7 linked regions of the Homo sapiens genome follow. The protein of the gene in region 6 interacts with the protein of the main gene of each other region in a pairwise test. Each region holds a gene or a part of one and is shown on either strand. Other genes may lie near its edges.

What was found.
Region 1: the proteins of ZRANB1 (region 6) and DTNB interact in binary tests that used the Homo sapiens proteins (3 or more experiments, as listed by UniProt).
Region 2: the proteins of ZRANB1 (region 6) and TSTD2 interact in binary tests that used the Homo sapiens proteins (3 or more experiments, as listed by UniProt).
Region 3: the proteins of ZRANB1 (region 6) and FAM124B interact in binary tests that used the Homo sapiens proteins (3 or more experiments, as listed by UniProt).
Region 4: the proteins of ZRANB1 (region 6) and CDC5L interact in binary tests that used the Homo sapiens proteins (3 or more experiments, as listed by UniProt).
Region 5: the proteins of ZRANB1 (region 6) and TBC1D30 interact in binary tests that used the Homo sapiens proteins (3 or more experiments, as listed by UniProt).
Region 7: the proteins of ZRANB1 (region 6) and MID2 interact in binary tests that used the Homo sapiens proteins (3 or more experiments, as listed by UniProt).

The regions. Positions count from the first base shown.
Region 1 is NC_000002.12:25,383,578-25,387,077, reverse strand, and holds part of DTNB (dystrobrevin beta), read left to right. Parts: exon of another isoform or gene 1-716; intron 717-965; coding exon of another isoform or gene 966-1,015; exon of another isoform or gene 1,016-1,051; intron 1,052-1,867; exon of another isoform or gene 1,868-2,012; intron 2,013-3,188; coding exon 3,189-3,242; intron 3,243-3,500.
Region 2 is NC_000009.12:97,623,369-97,626,868, reverse strand, and holds part of TSTD2 (thiosulfate sulfurtransferase/rhodanese-like domain-containing protein 2), read left to right. Parts: intron 1-871; coding exon 872-1,188; intron 1,189-3,500.
Region 3 is NC_000002.12:224,381,653-224,385,107, reverse strand, and holds part of FAM124B (protein FAM124B), read left to right. Parts: intron 1-3,455.
Region 4 is NC_000006.12:44,394,206-44,397,705, forward strand, and holds part of CDC5L (cell division cycle 5-like protein), read left to right. Parts: intron 1-2,135; coding exon 2,136-2,235; intron 2,236-3,500.
Region 5 is NC_000012.12:64,869,647-64,873,146, forward strand, and holds part of TBC1D30 (TBC1 domain family member 30), read left to right. Parts: intron 1-955; coding exon 956-1,162; intron 1,163-1,334; coding exon of another isoform or gene 1,335-1,394; intron 1,395-3,500. UniProt on the Homo sapiens protein: May act as a GTPase-activating protein for Rab family protein(s).
Region 6 is NC_000010.11:124,976,623-124,980,122, forward strand, and holds part of ZRANB1 (ubiquitin thioesterase ZRANB1), read left to right. Parts: intron 1-3,500. UniProt on the Homo sapiens protein: Ubiquitin thioesterase, which specifically hydrolyzes 'Lys-29'-linked and 'Lys-33'-linked diubiquitin. Also cleaves 'Lys-63'-linked chains, but with 40-fold less efficiency compared to 'Lys-29'-linked ones.
Region 7 is NC_000023.11:107,923,366-107,926,865, forward strand, and holds part of MID2 (probable E3 ubiquitin-protein ligase MID2), read left to right. Parts: intron 1-977; coding exon 978-1,139; intron 1,140-2,728; coding exon 2,729-2,936; intron 2,937-3,305; coding exon 3,306-3,500. UniProt on the Homo sapiens protein: E3 ubiquitin ligase that plays a role in microtubule stabilization. Mediates the 'Lys-48'-linked polyubiquitination of LRRK2 to drive its localization to microtubules and its proteasomal degradation in neurons.

The sequences.
Region 1 (3,500 bases), on a different chromosome or scaffold from region 6:
TATCTCAGGAGTGCATCTTGTGGAGCAAGCTGAATGTAGAGAAATTCAGACCTTTCAGTGCAGGCAGGCCCCTTCCTCACTTACCTCGTCTTCCATCTGTACTTTGTCCACAGCCGCTCTCTCCCTAGGCCTGACCGACCACCTCATTCTGAAACTTCCCTGGAGGTCTGGAGCGGAATCAGCCAGGAAAGCTCTGGACCTTCCCCTGCTGCCTTTCTGCTCTCTCCTGTTTGATTTGTTTTTGAAACCTATTCCCTCCTTTTGTCCGTGACCAGGCTCTGATTTCACCTGAAGTTCATGACCTGAGTCTGTCGCCTCTTCTGCTCCTTGTGTTCAGCTCATCTGTGACTTCTTTCTCAGTCTCTCCATCACCTCACCAATTCAGTGACTTCCCAAAGACCTTTACCTCGTGGCATTTCACCTTACATAAAACCCAGGAAAGAGAGAGAAAATAAAAGGCCATTCACGTATCCTCCTATCTCCAGGAATCCCCATGACTCTACCAGTTACGTAGGGGCCAGAGAGTCACTAACGATTTCACAGCGGTGGGGTCTCCATGTTTTGTGTTAAACTAATGGTTTCCCTCCCTAAGCGCTGTAGGTCACTCACACTGATGGCTCTCTTTTGTTTCTTTCCACCTAATGTAGTGCTTTTAAATACCTTGAAGTAGCTTAACAGGATTATTAAATAAAAAGATAAAGCAGTTTTTCCACGGACGATTCAAACACATACACTTATTCAAACACTCTTAGGGAAGGCAAGCCTTGGGTATTTTTCAGCCCTTCGTAGGAGAAAGCTCACATGTTTAGGGTTGTCATGGGACTGGACAGAGCCCCCAGCTCTGCTCTCAAGTCTGCCTGTTTTCATACAGACCAAAGTGAGTGTATAGCCCAGCTTCGTCTTTCCAGTCAGTTAAGGTCAGACGCTGCCTCTCTTGTTTGATGGTGCCACCCTCTCCATTCTAGCACTGTTTCTCAACCCCCATCAGAAGCACGGCCCCGCTCTGTACACATAAACAGAAGAGGCGACAGCCTTCAGGATGACCTCACAGGTGATTAGAAGGCGCTTTCCCTAATGCAGCTCCCCACAGATGTCAGAAATCCCACTTTTAGAGGAAATTTCTCAGGGAATTTCGGGCCATGGGAATTAACTACACTTGTACTTCATGGCCACTTATTAGAGTTTATGCAAAATAAGTGGCTTCTGCGTTCATCGTGCTAGGGTGAGAGGTCATTAAATACCATTAAGTGGAAAGCACATAGAGACCAAATAGCTTCACAAAAATGTAAAGCTTATAGGAATCCTCAGCAGTGTCTCATAGTAAGAAAGGATGGTTTCAACAAAATTATGTAGTGTAATTTGGAAGGTGCCTTAGAGAGCACATTGTCCAGTCCCTTACTTTAGAGATGTAGCCTGTGCTTATCAGAAAAGTGGTCTGCCTAAGGTCGTGCAGCTTGAAGGGGGAAAGCTGGTCCTAGAACCTGGGTCTTCAGAGCATCAAGCCAGAGATCTTACTCCCCTCCAGGACAAGATAGCAAACCCAGAGTCCCAGAGGCCCCTTTCCCTGATGCTGTCCTCTCAGTCACTGAAGCCTGTAGGTAGACGTGGACCAAAGCCACACATGGCACGGTATCCCTCTAACATGCAGACATAAACTCCCTTTACATGTGAGGGTGCCAATTTCTCAGTGAATGGAATAGCTTCACCCATCACCAACATGTTTTTACTGTCTCCTTGACAGTGACTTGACAGGTTTTTGTTCCAATGAGAGGACATACTCAGATTATCTTTACATATATTCTATACAGTGTATACATACTGTATATACATAGCTTGTAGTCCTCATCTTTATAAAGTTTTTTCACAGATAATCGAATCCTAGAATTGGAAAGGATCGAGGCCACAGGCACAGTGGCTCACACCTGTAATCCCAGCACTTTGGGAGGCTGAGGCAGGTGGATCACCTAAGGTCAGGAGTTTAAGACCAGCCTGACCAACATGATGAAACCCCGTCTCTACTAAAAATACAAAATTAGCCTGGCATGGTGGTGCATGTCTGTAATCCCAGCTACTCGGGAGGCTGAGGCAGGAGAATCGCTTGAACCTGGGATGCAGAGATTGCAGTGAGCCAAGATCGCGCCGCTGTAGTCCAGCCTGGGCAATGAGCAAAACTCCATCTCAAAAAAAAAAAAAGAAAAGAAAAGAAAAAAATTGTAAAGGATGTTAGAAGTCATTTAATCCAACTCGCCACCCAATAAAACAGTCCTCTGAATATTTCCAGCGAGCTCATTCATGATCAACTCTAATCACTGGAAACTTCTTCCTCAGTGGGGAGCCAAAATCTCACTTTCTGTAACTGATTTATCCCTGTCCTCTCAAGCTACCCAGGATAAGCTCAGTCCCTCCTCTGCAGGCTCGCCTTTCACGGGTTGGATGGCAAATGACAACCCTTCCTAGTTTTCTCCTCTGTAGACTGCTACACCCAATTCCTTCAACCTTTCCAAACGTGACATGGTTTTCTCTTACCAGCCTGCTTGACCATACCAGGATGTGGCCATTTTCCAAGGCTCCTATTCAAAGTACATGCCCAGGGCCCAGCACCCTGCTCTCCATCACAGGGGATCTTGTCCCTGCAGAGCACAAGGCATCTGTGACCCTCTTGAGTGTCCCCTGGAAAAGCACCTTAGACGGCATTAGCACTTCCCACATAGCCACTTTGCACTGTGCGGTCATTTTAAGTTTATCATCAGCTAAAACATACGGAATTTTTTTTTTTTAACAGAACCCCGTGTTAATCTAGGTATTCCCCCACCATATATTGTATGGTCACTTTCTTAAACCTGAATGCAAGACATTAGATGTCTCCCTGGTCATCACCACCTGAGGGCAGACAGGCATAGAACAGAGGCACGCAACCCCACACTGCACGCCCCCAGCCCTGGTCAGGAAAGTGAGCGATGTGACCGCACTGCTCCCTTTGGGCTGTGGTCTTACGGGCTCCTATTCAGCAGTGCTGGGGCGTGGGCCGCACAAGTGCAGACTGGTGAGCTGAAGCACCCTCAGAGGCCTGCAGCCAGGAGCTGTTAGCTAGAGTTTCCTCCCAAGCCTCAGCAGTTGCTTTGTTCACCCTCCTTCTGTACTTGTCCTGTGCCGAAGGGTCACTGGCCTCCTTGGACTTGTTTTCACAGCAGAGGAAGGTGCAGAGGAAGAAGAAGAGAAGATGCAGAATGGGAAAGACAGAGGTAAAGGCAGCTCAGCAGGACTGCTCGTTTAAATGGGGAGCCCGAGCTCATGGATCAGCCGCCCCCCACTTTGTTTCTGCATTCCTCCCTGCCACCACCTTTCCCAGAGCTTTCGGACCCGAGGTCCCTGTACCTACTTTTCCCATCTGACAGTCAGGTTTTACCTTCCAGGTGACAAGGTCAGTCGATCACCAAGAGCTTCCTCATTTCCTGATCCTGGGATAGGTAGTTGGGATACAGGAAGTAGATACAAGTAGA
Region 2 (3,500 bases), on a different chromosome or scaffold from region 6:
AAAAATACTGATAGAACTCAGTGAGGCTATGGATAAAATGGCACCCACATGCTTTTCTGGTTAGAGTATAAATTGGTACATTTTTCCTGGAAGTCACTATTACAGATTAAAATTTCATGTTCTTTGACCCCTCAATTTTTATTTTAGATATTCTAAGTAGGTGGTTAAAGATATAGAAAGATAGATGCATGGAATGCTCATTCAACATGGCTTTTAATTGCAAATATTAGAAACAATCTAAATGTTCATCAGTTGGTAACTGGTTAAGAGAATTTTCTGTTTGATTGTTTTACAATAAGCATAAGTAATTTTTATAAAAACAGTAATATTATTTTCCAAGAAGGAAGATATTTTGGTACGTTTCTTCCTGGTCTTTTTCAATGTACTTTTTAATGTGGTTAAGATTACATTGCATAAGCAATTTTATCCAATTTTTTTCACTTAATATTATATCATAAAATATTTTTCCATATAACTTAAAACTGGCTGCTTAATATTCCATGGTAAGCATACTTCATAATTTACTTTCCATATTCCTTTCGAAAATAACTAATAGTGTTATTTGTGATATTTTAGGCCAAACTGTATTATGTATTTTCCAGTGTGACTTAGTCTTATATCCTGAGAATAAAATTATGATGCTGAGAGTTATTTAACCTCCTCAATATAAAGCCTAGTTTTAATTTCTCTAATAGTCTCTTCTAAAGCTTACTAATAAGAGAAGTGTTACTTCTCAGAGAATTGTATAACATAATGGAACATAAAACTAGAAGCCCCTGTGGAAAGATAATCTAAAGAATCTTAGTGAGACTTCTATTAGCCATAAACCTAAGGTTATTTAACAGTGTTAGCATTTGAAATCTAATTGCAGGCCTTTGCCCTTTTTGTCAAAACCAAAGAAGTTCCAACAAAAAGGAGTTTTGAATGTAAAGAAAAATTGTGGAAATGCTGTCGGCAGCTATTCACAGACCAAACCAGCATCCATAGACATGTGGCAACACAACATGCTGATGAAATTTATCACCAGACAGCTTCTATTTTAAAGCAACTGGCTGTGACATTGAGCACCTCAAAGAGTCTTTCGTCTGCAGATGAAAAGAACCCTTTAAAAGAGTGCCTTCCACATAGCCATGACGTGTCTGCTTGGCTCCCTGATATAAGCTGCTTTAACCCTGATGAGCTGATAAGGTAAGATTTTCATTCTGTATTTTGGTTTGATTTAAAGTATTTTTCCAACCACAATGAGATACTACAATTCACCCATTAAAATGGCTAAAGTGAGAAAGACCAACTGTGTCAAATGTGAAATGAGGATGTGGAACAACTGGAACACCCAGTCACTGTTGGTGGGAATGTAATATGGCACAACCACTTTGGAAAAGTGTTCGGCAATTTCTTAAACATGCATCGTTCCTGTGGCCCACTCCTGGGTATAATACCAACAGCAATAAAAACATATCCACAGAAAGCCTTGTACAAGAATGCTCATAGCAGTTTTATTCATAATAACAAAAAACTGGAAACAACTGCAAATATCCATCAACAGGAGAATGAATAAACTGGTATAGTCATGTAAGAATATTGCACGACAATAAAGTGCTATGAACTGCTAATATTCAAGAACGTATATGGGTGAATGAGAAAATCCTTATGCTGAGTGAAAATAGCCAGACAATACATATTTTCTGATTTCATGTACTTGAAGGCAAAACTAATATATGATGATAGAAAGGTTCTGGCAGAAAGTTTGGGAATACACAAGAGATTTTTTGAGGTATTGGAAATGTTCTGGTTTTGATAGTGGTGTGGATTACACAGGTATACTTGTGTCAAAAATGATCAAACTTTACACTTAAGATCTGTGTATTTCACTTGTAAACTGTGCCATGCTTTAAACATTTTTAAATAAATAGGGCAGGAAAAACTAAGCAAAAAAAAGGGGGGGTTTCTTTTAAGCTAGATATCATTATCTGTATGATTTCAAATATACGTATCCAGAAAAATGCATCATTTACTAGGTTTATTGGGGAATGTAGCATTGCACATAGGGAATTTTTAAGAAAGCAGGTAAATGTAGCTTACATTTTAAAGCATCTAAACTTTCTTTGATTTAACCTTTTTTTTTTTCTGGAGTCTTTCAAACTGCATTAGACTCTTCTTTAATTGCATAATTAAACAGAGTATAGTGAATGTGATTGAACTTTTTGTGAGTGCTTTAATGCCATCAGGATGAACTTAAGTAGGATGCCAAGGTATAAAAGTTTGTCTTTTTACTAAGACGGCTCAGACTTACTCTTCTGTTACCTCTCCTCCCTCTCTTCTAATTCTAGATCCAAACTCTCTGTATTATTGCTATGTACCAAATTCAGCTTACAGCAGCATAGTTGGTGTTACTAGCTCAGAGTCTCTCATGAACTTGCAGTCATCTCATTGCTTGACTGGGGCCAGTAAATCTGTTTCCAGGTTCACTCATGTGGTTGGTGGCAGGCTTGTTTTTTCAGTGGCTTTTAGTCAAAGGCCTCCATTCCTCTCTGTGGGGGTCTCTTCATAGGCTGCCTGAGTGCTCTCATGACATGGCATGTGATATGTGAGAGACAGAGACACTTCAAGACAGAAACCACAATCTTTTATGACCTAATCTCAGATTGCCATACCATCACTTTTTATTGATGCTATTGGTCACGTAGACTAACCTCAGTACAGTCTAGGAGAGAACTATGCAAGGGTCTAAATACCAGGAGGCAGGATCATCAGGGATCATCTTGGAGGCTGGGCACCATACCTCAGAGTTGTTACTTTTTAGTGTGTATTACCTAGCAGCACTGCCTGCACTTTACCTATTCTTTCAGGATCTTAACTACTTGCAACAGCTAGATCCTTAAGGCACAGAATTCTAGAGGCCTAAGTTAGGCCAATAACATGCATACTATATATAGCCAAAGACCATAGCCTGTGCAGCAGCATATACCCAGTCAGTTGACATTGTTTGTGAGGTTTTTTCTTTTTTTTTTTGAGACAGAGTCTCACTCTGTCACCCAGGCTAGAGTGCAGTGGTGTGATCTTGGCTCACTTCAACCTCTGCTTCCCAGGTTCAAGTGATTCTCCTGCCTCAGCCTCCCGAGTAGCTGGGATTACAGGCATGCACCACCATACCCAGCTAATTTGTATTTTTAGTAGAGACAGGGTTTCACCATGTTGGCCAGACTAGTCTTGAGCTCCTGACCTCAGGTGATCTGCTCACCTTGGCCTCCCAAGTGCTGGGATTACAGGTGTGAGCCACTGCATCCAGCCTGTTTGCAAGGTTTCTTGGAGACCATTCTACATATTCTTTAGGGAGGAGAGGTAAAGAAAGAAAATTATATTATTTTCAAAAACAAGTGGGAAGACACAGAGACATTAATGATTCCTCTACCCTATGTAATGTCAGAGCTTAAAAAAGGGTTTTGTATTAGTCTGTTTTCATGCTGATAAAGACATATCCAAGACTGGGCAATTTACAA
Region 3 (3,455 bases), on a different chromosome or scaffold from region 6:
GGGTAGAGAAAATAAGGGGAGGTTTGTAGAAAAACATAACTACACAAATTTTATATACAGGTTTGACAGTGAAGGGGAGGACAGAGAAACCTGGAGGGAAAGAGAGGGTGGAAAGAATGTGTTTTTCAAGACACGAGACTTGAACAAGTTTAATTGCTGTTGGAAAGGAATAGGCAGAGAGAGAGAAAGAGAAGGAGAGGGAGAGAGATTAAACATCCAAGATAAGAAAGTGGGAAAAATGAATAATTGATAGGTCAGGGTCACCAAGAAGGCGGGAGGTGATGGGAGTCTTGGCCCAGGGACCGGTCACTTTCACCTAGAGAGAATGGTGAAGCTGCAGGTAAGTTTCGCGGTAGCAGTGAGAGTGTTGCTAACTGGTGACAGCATCTGCTTCCTTGATAATCTGGATGGTGAGACCACCTGATGAGAGAGAGTGGGGGCGATGGTGCTGCTGAAGATTTCAGGACAGTTTTGAAGGTTTGAACAGCTGCTGGGTGAATGGAGAGAGGTGACTAAGGAAGCAGGCAGACTGGCGGGTAGCCTGGGAGAGGCCGGAAACCACGCCATCATGGGGCACCCATTTCACAGACCGATGTGTTTCTGTGGCATCCTGAACACATGTTCAGAAAATGTGGGCAGGTAGATGGATGAAAGGTGGGGAGATTTTGTGGGAGTCTGTGACAGAATGGGAATAGTGAGGGGAGTTGGAGGTATTGGTGAAGAAATGGTTGAAGTGATAGTCTTTGGACTCAAATTGACTCTGAAAGGCAGTGTGGATGGGAGGGGCTGACAGGGAGAAGCTGGGGATTGGGAGTGTTGATGTTGAAGAGCAGATGTGATGGGGAATTGAGTGCCGGAGCCCATGGCCTCAGAATGCCTGGCTTAAATAGAATCTTTCAAAGATGGGACATTTGCAGGTGGAGAAGGCCCAGTGGAGGGGCTGTGGGACTGGGTGACAGAGGGGAGTGGAGGGGTGAGCTGGGCTGGCCCAGGAGGGCGCTTCCTGGCTGCCCTGAGATGTCTCGGCACTGGTTGGGGCTTCAGGACCAATTTCATTATGATCTGACATTGATTTAGATGGCAAGGGGCGATTACTCAGGCTTCTCTCTGTGTTCACAGTTGCTAGAGAATGAAATACAAGCCCCAGAGTCAAAGTTATTGATTTCTTTCTCCAGATTGGATAATCTAATATCAACCCTGAACCATTTCTCAGTATGGAAATATCCATGCCAGTTTCCATTTCTAGAAGAAAAAGATGTCATTGGGTCAATTAAAAAGGTACATTATGATACAAGGGTACAGTGTCAAATGATTCTCCAAGAGGCAATGATGGCAGTTGGCCCTTTGAAGGACTAAGGGAGTTTGTTCTCCAGGGGAAGGGAAACCCCAGCTGACATTTCGGAGATAGTATTTTTTCCTCCTGATTTTGAAAGGATAAGCAAATAGTCTTCATTGGAAAGTGAGAATTTGGGGGTGATTTGAGGTTGGGATAGGGAGAAGGCTTTACTTTTTATTTTATACATTTGTACAATGAAATTATTTTTATGGTGATAAATTACTACTTTTATAGTAAGACTTTTTTAAAAAAACAAACAGATGAAAAGGAAAGAAAGGAAAGGAAGGGCAGGAGGAAGGAAGGAGAGAAGGAAGAAAGGAGGGGAGGGAGGGCGGAGCTGTGGAATTAGAGCAAAGGGAAATGTAGAGAGAGATAGCAAAATGAAATTAGGCAAAGAATTTTTCAGAAATATGGAGGAGGAGGTCGGGTGTATGTGATAAGAAACAGACTCACAACGACCGCAAGTTAACTGACTACTCGAAGCCTAGCTTTTCTGGGTCCATGGCAGTAGTTCCGAAACTTCGCTGCACATTAGAATTACTGGGGGAGATTTATCAGCTCTGACAGCCAGGTGTACTCTGACCTGATGAAATCAGGAGGTCATGGGCTGGGAGCAGGCATCATTGTTTTTTAATGATCCCAGGATGTTCCCTTGTGCAGCAAAGTTTGGGAACAGAAATTTCTCCTATGGGTTTGCATAAGGACAGGTCCTTCGGTGCAGTGGGCATCCCTTCAACAGTGTCGCCCCTAGAGAGAGTATCTGATGCTGGTGGAAGCTCTCTTCAACACACTCTGGGGCACTGCACTCAGCTGTGGTTCAGTGCAAGCACATCTGCGATAGGGGTTTCAGGTGTGTGTGGCTCTAATGAACTGGCTTGGCTCAGGGGTAGAATTTAGATATTCTAGAATAGTGGTTTTCAAGCTGGTTCTGTGAAGCCCTGGGGAACTAGAGAGGGGGTCCCGTAGGCAGAGGCTACCCTCTGTACGTCAACCAGGGCTGCGCTAATTAGATTGCTTCATATTTTGGGCTTCCAGGTAAGAAATTGTTTGGAAAAAAACTTCTTAAGATAGAGAGATGGCTCACTCCTGTCATCCAGCATTTTGGGAGGCCAAGGTGGATGGATCACCTTAGGTTGGGAGTTTGAGACCAGCCTGACCAATATGGAGAAACCTCATCTCTACTAAAAATACAAAATTAGCTGGGCGTGGTGGTGCATGCCTGTAACCCTAGCTACTAGGGAGGCTGAGGCAGGAGAATCACTTGAACCTGGCAGGTGGAGGTTGCAGTGAGCTGAGATTGCGCCATTGCACTCCAGATTGGGCAACAAGAGCAAAACTCCATCTCAAAAAAAAAAAAAAAAAAAAAGACAGGGAATCATTGATCTAGAATAGGGCTTGGTCAACTGTGGCCTGAGAACTAAAAATAGTTTTCTATTTTTATATGGTTGGAAAAAAATTCATGACACATAAAAAATATGAGATTCAAATTTCAGTGTTCATACATAGAGTTTTACTGAACACAGCCATTCATTTATATATTGTCTATGGCTGCTCTGCAGCAGAGTTGGATAGTTGGGATAAAGACCATATGGCCGGCAAACCCTCAGATATTTACTGTCTGGCTCCTTGCCGAAAATATTTGCCAACTTCTATTCTAAAAGAATCAGTGGAAGTCCTTGTTTTTTTGTGTGTTTGTTTTTGCAGCTTGGTAATATGCACCTCACCATTTCTATCAGAAAATTGAGATGTACTCTGCGTCATCTATACAAACAAATATGCTCTGTGTGAGTGTGTGTGTGTGTGTATGAGAGAGAGAATTTACTGATTTCTAGACCTGTTTTCTCACTGTCCTCATTTCTGCCTTCTTGCCTTGTAAGATAAATATGTATCATTATTTTTTCTCCCTTGAAATAGACCTTATTTTTTACAGCAGTGGTAGGTTCACAGCAGAATTAAGCAGAAAGAACAGAGAGTTCCCATATACAACCTTCCCCCCGAAAAGAGCCTCCTTTCCTGTCAACATCCTTTATCAGAGTGGTACATGTGTTACAACTGATCAACCTACAACGACACATCACCATCACCCAAAGCCCATAGGGTACATTAGGGTTCATTCTTG
Region 4 (3,500 bases), on a different chromosome or scaffold from region 6:
ATAACCCCTTGAGCCCAGAAGTTGGAGGCCAGCCTGGGCAGCATAACGAGACCCTGTCTTTAAAACTGAGTAGTGTAATTCTACTGAGTAGATTTTTCAGAGGCTAGAGGTGAGCCCTTGAAGATCCTGTTTCTCATTCCTATTCCATGGAGAGAGACATCAAGTCAGAATATTGGACCTCAGTCCTCCTATTAATTACTTATTTGACTATAGGCAAGTTATTTATTCTGTGTGAGAAGGCAACCTGTGAGACGGTGATGGAGACTTAACAGTGATTCTGGGAGGCATTGAATCAGGAATTCCACAATAGAAAGTATATGGAATCAACCTAAGTGTCCATTAATGGGTGAATGGATAAAGAAAATGTGGACTGGGCATGGTGGCTCACGCCTGTAATCCCAGCACGTTGGGAGGCTGAGGTGGGCAGATCACTTGAGCCCAGGAGTTCAAGATCAGCCTGGCCAACATGGTGAAACCCTGCCTCTATAAAAAAATACAAAAATTAGCCAGGTGTGGTGGCGCATGCCTGTAGATCCAGCTACTGGGGAGGCTGAGGTGGGAGAATCACTTGAGCCCGGGAGGCTGGGTTTGCCATGAGCTGAGATCAAGCACTGCACTCCAGCCTGGGCAACAGAGCAGGACCCTGTCTCAAAAAAAAAAAAAAAAAAAAAAAAAAAAAATGGTATACACACACACACACACACACACACACACGAATACTATTTGGTCATAAAAAGCAATGAAATCATGTCATTTGCAGCAACATGGATGGCAGTAGAAGTCATTATGTTCAGTGAAATAAGCCAGGCACAGAGAGACAAATACTGCATATTCTTCCTCATATGTGGGAGCTAAAAGCGTTGATCTCATGGAGTTAGAATAGAGTGATAGATGCCAGAGGCTGGGTATGGTGTGTGGGTGGGAGAGCGGGATTAAGAGAGGTTGGTTAATGGGTACAAACGTAGATGGAAAGAAATAAGTTATAATGTTTGATAGCAGAATAGGGTGACTATAGTTAGCAACAGTGTATTACATATTTCAAAGTAGCTGGAAGAGAGGTCTGAAATAAATACTCAAGGTGATGGGTACCCCAGATATACTGACTTGATCATTACACATTCTATGCATGTAACAAACTCTCACATGTACCCTATAAATATGTAAAGTATGATGTATCAGTTAACAGAATCAGGAATTGGATTTTCAACCCGTGTGTGCCACCTATTAGCTGTTTGACCTTAGACAAGTCATAAAATCTCTCTGAGCTTTGATTCCCTTTCTTGCGAGATGGGGAATACTAATACCTGCTTTACCTTAGCAGGGTTGTTGTGAAGCACTCAGTGAATATTTGTTAAGTTTCTAAAATGTAAAGTTTGAACATAGTGGTTCCCAAAGGCAGGCTGTGGCTAGGCTGGCTGCATCATTATCACAGGGGGAGCATTTAAAAATAGAAATATCAGGGCTTCTCCTGTATATACTGAGTCAGTACATCTGGGGTGGTGTGGGAGGCACGGGAAGAGCAGTGATCTTGGAATCTGAGTATTTTACAAGTTCCCATGTGATTTAGTTGGACAGCCTTGCATAGGAATTGTTCTAAGGCATCAATAGTGGCATGTATTATTCCATTCTATAGAGCCACGAAAAATGTATTGGATGAGAGAAATTGTTCTGAGGGGAAAAAAAAGTATCTAATGATAGTTGTTCTCTCATAATTAAATAGTTTTTACCCTATTTCACAATTTGTGCTGTGCCAGTTAGTTGATAATAATGAAGGATACAATAATTGTAGCCACTGTTTAATGAATGCTTGCGAGATGCTTTACATATTTCGTTTTACTTAGCCCTTCTCAAAATCCTTGTGAAATAGGAATTGTTATTCGAATTTTATAGGGAAACCATGCTTAGGGAGGGTAAGTAAGTGACTAAGGTCACATAGCTAGCAAGTGGTGGGCCTGGTTTTTAACCTAGGTTCTTTGACTTCAAAACTCAAGCTGTTTCCATTATGCTACACCATAAAATCAGTATTTTTATGTTTTTTTCTCATTTTGAGCAATAGAGTGTCTCTTACATACCTTGCTTCTAGAGTATGTAAGAACTAAGAAAATACTTAGTTTTTCTTCTTTTAATTTTTGCAGATGAACTTGAGATGCTTTCTGAAGCCAGAGCCCGCTTGGCTAATACTCAGGGAAAGAAGGCCAAGAGGAAAGCAAGAGAGAAACAATTGGAAGAAGCAAGGTATGTGTGGATATAGGAATAAAAAGCAAAGTGTTTTTCTCACATAACAATCAACACAGAATACTTCTGTGACCAGATATGTGGTTTTTTTTTTTTTTTCCCCTCTCCACCAGCAATCAGGCAATCAATTCTGCAGTGGATAGCTGGGTGTCCTCTAATTCAGTTAACTCTAATACTGTCTACCTGGAGATAGCTCCAGATCTTACAGGTTGAGGACTTAGTCCCACAAGACTGAACCCCAGTTTTGATGCTGACCCTAAACCCCAGGTTATTTTGCTTGTGTTTCTGACCAGCGAGCTGGGTTCCACTGCCCCTTCCTTGGGTTCCATTCATCTGCTAGAGGACTCACAGAACTCAGGGAAACACCCACATTTACAAAGGATATTTTAAAGGATACAAATCAACGGCCCCATGAAGAGATACACAGGGTGAAGCCTGGAAGGGTCCTGAGTGCAGGTGCTTATGTCCCATTGAAGTTGGGATATGCCACCCTCCCAGCCAGTGGGTGTGTTCTTGTTCACCTTTTCGGAAGCCCCCATGTATTTGGCTGCCCACAAGTTCTCCAGACTCTGTCCTTTTGGGTTTTTATGGAGGCTTCATTAAATAGGCAAGATTGATTACATCATTGGCCATTGCTTATCAACTCGACCTTCAGCCCTTCTCCCCTCCCCTGAGGTTGGGGGTTGTGGCTGAAAGTCCCAAGCCCTCTAATCCTGCCGTGGTCTTTCTGGTGACTGCCAGCTATCAGTCAACTCATTAACATGCAGAAAGACACTTTTCACTTGGAAGAGTCCCAGGATTTTAGGAGTTGCATTGTTGGAAACGGATGAAGACCAAATACATTATTTCACAATGTGTGCTTGTCTCCATTCATAGTTCAATAATTAGTCTAGGCATCCTTAGGACCAATAAAACTGCATGATTTATTAACCCGTTGGGTGAATAATAATTGGAATTGTCCAGTTCCTATTTCGCTAGTATTCTTTACCTTCTTTATTTCTCTGAAACTATCTTGTATTTTTTTCCCCCAACCATTTCAGAATATTTATAGAAAACCATATTTAAAAAAAATTGAAGCTATGGCAGAGGTAATGCCCAGTTTATCCAGTATGTTGAGTGTGTTCTGTTGGCATATGAGAGCTTCATTTGTTGTAGCTATTTTGGAGTCAGATGACTGTAGGACACACAAGATTATGTGTCTTTTGTATGACTGCCAATTAGTTACTTTCCTTGATTGGTATTGGGAAGGCACTGGCTGTGAAACA
Region 5 (3,500 bases), on a different chromosome or scaffold from region 6:
GTGCATTTTTGTGCTCTAGGATGACATGATCACTTTCTCCTAAATTTCATCATTAGTCTTTCTTGTTGATTTTGCTCTGATTAGCAGTTTCTCTTTTAATTTTCTTCTCCTTACAGAAATGATTACAGTAAAAAAATGAATTTCTGAGATGTTTAGCCTTTGTCTGAATAACACTCTCAGCAGATGTTAGGATAGTTGGAGTCTCTCAGTCTTTTTTTGACTCTGGCTCCCATGTCAGTTTTACAAATTGTGCTGGAGAAGCTTGCTGTCTCCCGCTTTGGCCTGTGTAGTCTGTGGGTTACTCCCACCTAGTATTGTTTCTCTTTTTTGGAGGTCATCTCAATTTTATTTAAGAGACAAATCTGCTAGTTGTAGCTATCACAGGAGCAGACACCACATCCGATATAACAACAGAGTGGACAGGAAATGTTTGTTAAATGAACAAAGCATTCATTCTAGTGATACAGTGGTCTGAAGTCTTGATAATTTTATAAATTGTGTTACTACCTTTAATGTAAGAAGAATGCACTTTTAATGACTGTCTAAACTCTACAAACCAATTCTGTATAAATCCTCATGCCGTTGTGTGGAAATCTGTACAGTGATTTTAGAAATTAGGAGTTATATCTTTCTAAGGAAATCTTAGACAATGGCAGTGATTTTCATCTGGAAGCAGTTGATGTTATGTCTATATAGCTAACAAACTGGTAACAAAATCAAACTCTGAACCCATATAGCTCATGTCAGACCCACAGTTAGGTTAATAAGAAAATGCAGAAATATTTTCAGGGGCACATCAAAATAAGCACTAGACAAACTCTAGTATGCGTTTTTTTCTGTGGTTTAGAATTTCATGGAGGTTAAGATACCGCACTGAGTTGTAGTGTTATCAATTTCCATTTACTCCTGTTCCCCTCCACCGACCATCTCCTTATGTCTCATCCTTCGAGCGCAGAGCCAAATGAGGAGCAGAGTCTGAGATCTAATAACATTGCAGAGCTGAGTCCAGGAGCAATCAATTCCTGTCGAAGTGAATACCATGCAGCTTTTAACAGTATGATGATGGAACGCATGACCACAGATATCAATGCACTGAAGCGGCAGTACTCTCGAATTAAAAAGAAGCAACAGCAGCAGGTTCATCAGGTGTACATCAGGGCAGGTAATGTGATTCTTCATTTGAATCAATTTCAGCTCTATCTCAACTTGTAAAATGAAGAACAAATAATCCTAGGAAGGCCTTGGAATTACTAACTGTAGCTCAGTATCCATCAACACAGCTGGCATGACATAATAGCATATTTAGCATCTCATTTTAAATTTTATTTTATCAGGCTCTAAAGAAGAAAAAGACTGCAGGTTCTTTTTAGGCCCCAAGGACCAGGCAGTTGATGGTATTAAACACGTCTCTACTGTGTGTGCTGTGGAGAAGGGTTTACAAATGATTAAAATGTTGCAAAGCCATGCAATCCTTGGACTTGAGAAATTTTGGAGCATAAATTTTATGCATCTGAATATAGAATCATCTGTGCACTAGTAAATTAAGCTGTATACTAGTCATTTAGGTGATATTATAACAGATGTTGTATCAGAGAAACTGGGAAAAAAAACATTAAAAACCTGTGCCTTGCTGATGGCAAGTATCTTGGGAATATACTAAGAAGAACACAATTATAATGCAATTGGAAATGCTCTTTTCCAAGGATTGCCAAGCTTTTTTCTTTTTAATTCCAAAAATCCCAGTGAACAGTCTGCTTTATTGTTTAATATATGCTGATTTGGGAGTTGTTTTTTCTTGCTTGAAGTGAATATCTTAATGAAAATGGTGCCTGTCCAGAATTAACTGAAATATAAATTTGACATGTTTTTAAAGTGGCATGTGAGCATGTGACTGATCCTGCACAAAAACTGAATTTACCTTCCATTTATCAGAGAAGAATAGTTGACTTCTTGATGATTCTCACTTTATCCTGAGTCATTAAGAAACCAGTCACAAAATAACTGAACAATTTCACTTTAAGTTTCAAAAACATTGGCACATACATTTCCTCATTTTGTCCTTAAAACAAATCTATGAGGAAGGCAAGGACAGATAGTCCCATCTTCTTCCAAATAGTGAGGAAATGGTGATTCAGGAAGGCTTAGCAATTGTCCAGGGTTATATAGCTATAGTGAGTGGTCAGGCCAGGGCTAGAACACAGGTGTTCTGATTCTTTGTACAGTCCCTTTTTAACTACACTGTACAAGTCTTTGGGTGTGACGGTAAACAATTGCTCAGGGTGCTAAATCGGCCCAGTGGTTTGTACCTTCATCAGGGATCAGCAAACTGTGGTCTGTAGGCCAAATCCTGCTCACTACCTGTTTTTGTAAATACAGTTTTTTGTTTGTTTGTTTGTTTTGAGATGGAGTCTTACTCTGTCATTCAGGCTGGAGTGCAGTGGTGCAATCTCAGCTCACTGTAACCTCCACTTCCCAAGTTCAAGCAATTCTTGTGCCTCGGCCTCCCAAGTAGCTGGGATTACAGGCATGCACCACCATGCCTGGCTGATTCTTGTATTTTTAGTAGAGACGGGATTTCACCATGTTGGCCAGGCTGGTCTTGAACTTCTGACCTCAGGTGATCTGCCCACCTTGGCCTCCCAAAGTGCTGGGATTACAGGAGTGGGCCACCGCACCTGGCCTGTAAATACAGTTTTATTGGAACACAGGCATGCCCATTTGTTTACAGGTTGTCTAAGGCTCCTTTCACACTACAGTGGCTAAAATATTTACAGTCTGGTCCTTTACAGGAAAAGTTTGCTGACCCCTTCTTCAGATCATGGTTGATGGTGGTTCTCTTTAAGGGAGAGATTGCTGCTCAAAGGCAAAGCTCTAGAGCTTTGGTTCTTGAAATTTAGTGTGCATACAGATCATTTGGGGATCTGCTAAAATATTCACTCTGTTTCAGTAGGTTTGGAATGGAGCTGAAATTATATGTTTCTAACAAGCCCGTAGGCACTGCTGGTGCTGCTGCATGGGGACTGTATTAGTCTGTTTTCACACTGCAAATAAAGACATACCTGAGACTAGGCAATTTATAAGAGGCTTAATGGACTTACAGTTTCACATGGCTGGGGAGGCCTCACAATCATGGTGGAAGGCAAGGAGGAACAAGTCACATCTTACGTGGATGGCAGCAGGCAAAGAGAACTTGTGCAGGGAAACTCCCATTTTTAAAACTATCAGATCTTGTGAGACTTCTGCACTATCATGAGAACAGCACGGGAAAGACCTACCCCCATGATTCAATTATCTCTTACTGGGTCCCTCCTACAACACGTGGGAATTATGGGAGCTACAAGATGAGATTTGGGTGGGGATATGGCCAAACCATATCAGAAACCATGGTTTGAGTAGCATGGTTTTAGATGAGATGGTATATGATAGGATTAGCAGCACAGGTGGAGAGATTGAACTTGAACTAGAGGCAAAAAGACCTTAGCTTCTGAGACTTAGTGGAA
Region 6 (3,500 bases):
GTGCAGTGGCATGATCTCGGCTCACTGCAACCTCTGCCTCCCGGGTTCAAGCAATTCTCGTGCCTCAGCCTTCGAAGTAGCTGGGATTACAGGTGGCGCCACCATACCTGGCTAATTTTTTGTATTTTTAGTAGAGATGGGGTTTCACCATGTTGCCCAGGCTGGTCTCGAACTCCTGAGCTCAGGCAGTCCGCCCACCTCGACCTCCCAAAGTGCTAGGATTACAGGCGTGAGCCACCGCGCCTGGCCTTTTCTTTGGTGGTAATTTCCTGATCTGTTGAAAGGCCAAAAGTACACTGTGGATTTTAGAAGTGATGTCTTTTTTTTAGTGATGAGGGTTTTTGGTGGTGGTGTTTGTTTTTTGAGAAAGGGTCTTGCTCTGTCACCCAGGCTGAAATGCAGGGGCACGATCTTGGCTCACTGCATCCTTCACTTTCTTGGGCTCAGGTGATCCTCCCACCTCAGCTTCCTATGAGTGGCTGGGACTGTAGGAGTGTGCCACCACACGTGGCTAATTTTAAAATTTTTCTGTAGAGATGAGGTCCTCACTGTATTGCCCAGGCTGGTCTTGAACTCCCGGACTCGAGTGTTTCTTCTGCCTTAGCCTCCCAAAGTGCTGAGATTACAGGCATGAGCTACTACTGCACCTGGCCTTTTTTTTTTTTTTTTTCTTTTTTTAAAAAGACATTTGTGGTGAGTAAGAATTGCTTTGGGGTTTATGCCCACCTGTTCCTCAGAGCTGGCTATGGATGATCTTATGAGTGAGTTGTCACTAATGTTTGTATCGGGACTGGAATTCTCAGATGGTTGCAAGTCATTTGAGGTCCCAGAAGTCCAGCATAGAGATAGGGAGATTGTGGGCAGATCTCTTGAGCCTAGGAGTTCAAGACAAGCCTTGGCAACATAGTGAAACCCTGTCTCCACCAAAAAATACAAAATTTAGCCAGGCGTGGTAGTGTGTGCCTGTAGTTCCAGCTACCTGGGAGGCTGAGGTGGAAGGATTGTTTGAGCCTGGAAGGTTGAGGCTGCACTGAGCCAAGATCATGCCACTGCACTCCAGCCTAGGTGACAGAGTGAGACCCTGCTAAGAAAAAAAAAAAAAAAAAAAAAAAAAGATGGTTTGGTGGAGAAATACAGTCTGATGTTGTAAATAGGCTAGATAGGGAGTGGCTACTAGGGTGAGAAGGAACTAGGCTGTTTGTTTACAGCCACTGGCAAGAGTTGTTGCAGCAGAACTTTTAGTCCATAGTCCTGACTCTTAAAGGATGCTTCAGGAGTGAGCACCTAGGGCTGGCATATGGACAGGTGTCCCAGAACAGCATGGTTTGGCATCACCTCCTCCAGTCCCTGCCACCGGGGAGCTTTGCCCGATGGTTTACAGTTCAGGCATAGGAAGCTGCATTGATTACAGTGATCACACAGACATCCTTACAGTATTGGGGGGTGGGTTGGGGTGAAAATTAGTGGTTAGATAGTAAGTGTTGTTGCCATGGATTCGGGAGATCAGATATACTAGCCCTAAGGAATAACCCATACATAGTTCTTGTGTTGAGTTGCATTAGGTTTGTCCACTGGGCCTGTCATGTGACCAGTAGAGAGTAGAGTGAGCAGCCGTGGGTTTTCTAGGCCAGGAGAGGAGGAGCCAGCATGTAGCTTGTGTAGTCTCCTTTTAAAGATGCTCTTTGCTGAGGTGCCTTTTGCACTTAATTGAAATCAGCTGGAGTGAGATGTTTTCTTAAGTCATATAAGATACATAGTAAGAACTGAGAAAGCAATTTTCTTTTATTTGAACCCCTCCACCCGTCACTTCAAGATAGGCTATTTGTGTTTGTAGCTAGCTGTGCTGTTCTCTTGGATACCCGTGATTTTAGCTGACTCAGGTTCTCAAGTCTGAATATATTGTACTTGCCTTTCAGTGACATGCCAACCCAATTTCCCACGGGGCAGGTGGAGGCGTTTAATGTTAATTGGGGAAAAAAATCAATATAAGTCTTTTAGAATTATTCCTTTTTTTCTTTTTGGAGACAGGGTCTTGGTCTGTTGCCTGGACTGGAGTGCAGTGGTGCGATCTTGGCTCACTGTAACCTTATACCTTGTGGGCTCAAGCAATTCTCCCACCTCAGCCTCCCAAGTAGCTGGGACTACAGGCACATGCCAACATTCCCAGCTAATTTTTTTTTTTTTTTTTTTTTTGTATTTTTTTGTAGAGACGGGGTTTCGCTATGTTGCCCAGGCTGGTCTCAGACTCCCACCTCGGCCTCCTAAAGTGACTGTTTTTGTTATGAAGAATTATCGGCCGGGCCTGGTGGTTCAGGCCAATAATTCCAGCGCCTTGGGAAGCTGAGGCTGGAGGATTGCTTGAGCTCAGGAGTTCAAGACCAGCCTGGGCAACATAATGAGACCCTGTCTGAAAACAAAGAAAAACACAATGAGATACTACTTCACATGCACATAAATGGCCATAACCAAAAAGACAAATGATAACAGTGTTGTTGAGAATTTGAAGAAATTGGAATCTTCATACATTGCTGATAGCAACGAAAAATGTTCTAGGTCTTGAACTCCTGGGCTCAGGTGATCTTCTAGCCTCAGCCTCCCAGTTAGCTGGGATTGCAGGCACATGGGCTCCTTGTGATTTTGATTTGCATTTCCCTATTTAATGATGATACTGAGTGTCTTTTCATGTGCTTATTGCTCATTCCTATAGCGTCTTTGGTTTAATATCTTTCCACGTCTTTTGCTCATTTTTAAATGGATTGTCTTAATATTGATTTGCAGATGTTGTTTGTATCAGGTCCCTTATTGGATATCTGCTTTGCAGATATTTTTTTCTATTCTGTGGCTTGTCTTTTCACTTCATTAGCAGTGTCTTTTGAAATCACGAGTCTTTAATTTGATCAAGTTCAGTTTATCAATGTTTTTCTGTTATTGCTCATGCTTTTGCTGTTGTATCTGAAGAGATTTTTGTCTAGCCCAAGGTCACGAAGATTTACTCCTGTGTTTTCATAGAAGAATTTTATAGTTTTAACTTTTACATTTAGGTCATTTTTGTTTTACATTTTGAGGTCATTTTTGTTTAAAGTGTGAGATGTCCTAAATTCACCTTTTTGCATGTGGATACCCAGTTGTTTCGGTACCTTTAATTGAAAAAAACCCTTTCTACATTCTATTGCCTTGGCAATTTTGTCGAAAATTAGTTGACCATAAAAGTAAGGGTTTGTTTCTGGACTCTTAATATTTTTCTATTGATTTATTTTTCCACTGGGCTATCGTTATGTCATTACCAGACTGTCTGGATGATCATATCTTTGTAATACATTTTGAAATCTGGACTGTAAGTCATTTGACTTTGTATTTCTTTTTCAACATTGTTTTGACTATTTTGAGTCCTTTGGATTTCCATATACATTTTAGGATACAGCTTTATCGATTTTTGTAAAAAAGACAGCTGGGATTATGATTGGGATTGCATTGAATCTGTAGATTTAATTGGGGTGATG
Region 7 (3,500 bases), on a different chromosome or scaffold from region 6:
CCGAAAGCTTGCCAAATACATGTTTTAATTATTTACATTTCCCCTGTTTAAGTTAATATTTGCAGTCTAAAATATATCAAAAGCAGAAGCCTAGTTCTCTGATCCCTTTCCCTACTTGGAAGGGAGGAAGATTCCAGATAACAATGTGCTCCTGGACCACTCAACCCAAAATGAACATGGGAATCACACAACAGAATGTGTTGTGTAATAGTGGGGAGATGATATCTTGCTTTGGTTATCATGTCATCTCTTTGGCTTCCCTACGGTACTGTGGAGACCGGCTAGTTTGGGAAGTAAGGGTAAGGATGGAGTAGGAGAGTGGAATTGTAAGCCCTGAGAGCCTCACTACCTTGCAGAGACAAAAGAACATTGTTGTTCACCCCATGAACTGTGATGTAGTAGAGAGAACACTGGGCTACCATTTTAAAAATACCAGGGTTCTATTCTCAGCACCATCACTGACTATCTGTGGCCTTGGGCAGGTCACTTTTCTTCTCTCAATCCTAGTTTCCCATTTGTAAAATAAGGGAAATACAGTATCTATGTGTCCCTTTGGCTGAGTTTCCATGTTTCCCTGCTCTGCACAGGATTGCTCCATCCATACAAGACCAAACTCAGCTCTCAGAGGAGTGGACGTTTGGAGTAAATATCCAGAGACTCCATAAGAGTGATGATTCCGTGACTCTGTATAGTAGCCATTCCTGTGTTATCTGGGAAAGAAATTGAAATAACCTAACTTATGCTAGTAGTTCCATTCAATTGCCACAAGCAAGGAGCCTGGCCTAAGCCTAGTTCTATGGGAGTAATGAAATAGTGGAATCATAAGCCCTGGTTCATCTCATTACATCTTCTAAGACTCAAAAGAAAACAAAATGAATTCACTTTTGAGGGGGTGGCTTATGATGAATTTTCAGTGTGTTTTTCATTCTGTCTCTCTTACCTGCTGGTTAATGTCCTTGTCTTTCCCCATGTTACAGGCCTGTATAATTCAGTAGACAGCTGGATGATTGTTCCCAACATTAAACAGAACCATTACACAGTGCATGGACTCCAGAGCGGGACTCGCTACATCTTCATCGTTAAAGCCATAAACCAAGCCGGCAGCCGGAACAGTGAACCTACCCGACTAAAAACAAACAGTACGTTGTGGTGATTTCAAAAGGAAAGATCAATTTTCTTCTCCATGCCAGGGGAGTACACAGCCTGAGCAGGCACTCACAGCAGTGCATGGGGAGCAGTGGTACTGGGTAGAGGAGCTATACTGTTGTAGTTTGTACTTTGGGCAAGGAGTTTGTTGGTGCCCATGGGAGATTTGTGGACTCAGAGATATGCACAAAAAGACTGTTAGCTTGGGAGGATGTTAGTGAAGAGTTTTCTCTGTACTCCACCCCTTATATTTGGGGGACAATTGCATAAAAGAGCATTATTTGTGATAATCTAGTAAAATCTTACTACAGAGAAGCCATATCTGTTAGGAATGCTTTTGACAGCAAATAACAAAAAGTGCAACTAACATAGCTTAACAAATAGCGTTTGTTAATTGTTTAAATGAATAGTATATATTTTATCTCTCACACATACACATAGGAAGAAGTTTGAAGGTAGGCAGTTCAGGGCTAATGCAGCTGCTCTGCGATGTCATAAAAGATGCAGGCTCCTTCTCCCTGTGTGCATTGGCTTCTTGCCACATGGCTGCAAGATGGCCACTGCAACTTTCAGATGTCATATTACCTCTCAAGATAGGAAAGAGGAAAGAGTTGGTACACATAATGGTTATCCCTTTTATCTGGAAATCCAAAACTTTCCTAGAACTTTCCCCTGCTCTGTCTGACTTCTGCTTCCATCTGCTTCCATGTTCTTAGCCGCCCCTAGCAGTAAGGGAGGCTGGAAGATTGAGTATTTAGCTTTTCCGGCCTCTATAGTGAAAGTGAGTAAGAGAGAAAAAGTTGGGAAAGGGTAATGTGTTAGCCAACAGTGTCTGTCACAGAAGCATTCTGTATAAAAATCTCTTGCCACACCCAGCAACTGGTCCCTCAGTAACAATGCCTTTGTCATATGGTTATAAAGAATTATCTGTTGTGAATGATCCTACACAATAAATGTTTTCTCTGATCATTGATGATGCAACAGTCACTCTAACAAAATTGCCTAATTATATGTTATTTACATCCCAATTGTAAGAGGGCAAAAATAATTGTTCAGTTGCTGAGTTCTCAGGGTTTTCCGGTTCTGCCATCAAGCAGCAATTACATCAATTCCCCTCACCTCAGACATCATAACACTCTTTCTGTTAAAATCTACCCAAATCCCAAACAACCCACTGAAATTAAGCAAAGTACAAAACATATTTGAGAACATGAAACTTTGAGCACTCCCTTTTACTTTGATAATATATGATGTGGGGGACAGCTTATTAGCTCCTCTTTGCTTGGAATATGACTTCCCTCAAATTGCTTTTAGGAGAGATCCACATTTTTTCCCACAGTGGGAAAATAAACGCCGTTATGAAGGTCGTTTTATGGGAGATTGGCCTTTATTCTTATTTTATTGAAAACTCTGGTTTCTGGCCTGTTTTCTTAATAAAATTTAAACAGCAGCCAACTTGCACTGGACCAAGAGTGATCATGTTATCGAGCATACCCTGCCAGTGATGATGCTGGTGGAAAAGGTAGAATTTTAAGATACTTCATAGTGCTTTTTCTTTTTTTTTTTTCTACTTATTTTTCAGGCCAACCCTTTAAATTGGATCCCAAAATGACTCACAAGAAGTTGAAGATCTCCAATGATGGATTGCAGATGGAGAAGGATGAAAGCTCTCTAAAGAAGAGCCACACCCCAGAGAGGTTTAGTGGCACAGGGTGCTATGGGGCAGCAGGAAATATATTCATTGACAGTGGCTGCCACTATTGGGAGGTGGTCATGGGTTCCTCAACATGGTGAGTGGATCCCATTTTCCTTTTCTTTTCTGTCCTCTGTCATTAGGTTCCTAGGAGATTCAATTCTATAGCACAACCATAATACCAATAAGTCAAGGTTAAAAGGTATGTGATGAAAACCACTCCTAGAAAAATTTGCCAGCTTTTTAATAAAATAATGGAAAATATACTGGGCTAGGAGATGGAAACTGCCACATTGCTCTAATTGCTAACTTTTTAAAGCTCTAGTGATATCAGCATTATGCATCTAAGTGTAAACTATTTAAGGAATAAACATATATCCTATTTGTTATATATCATATATGGTGTCTTACACAACTCAGATAATTCATAAATGTTTATTTCTCTCTCCTTTCCACTGTCTCACAGGTATGCAATTGGCATTGCCTACAAATCAGCTCCAAAGAATGAATGGATTGGCAAGAATGCCTCCTCATGGGTCTTCTCTCGCTGCAATAGTAACTTCGTGGTGAGACACAACAACAAGGAAATGCTGGTGGATGTGCCCCCACACCTGAAGCGTCTGGGTGTCCTCCTGGATTATGACAACAATATGCTGTCTTT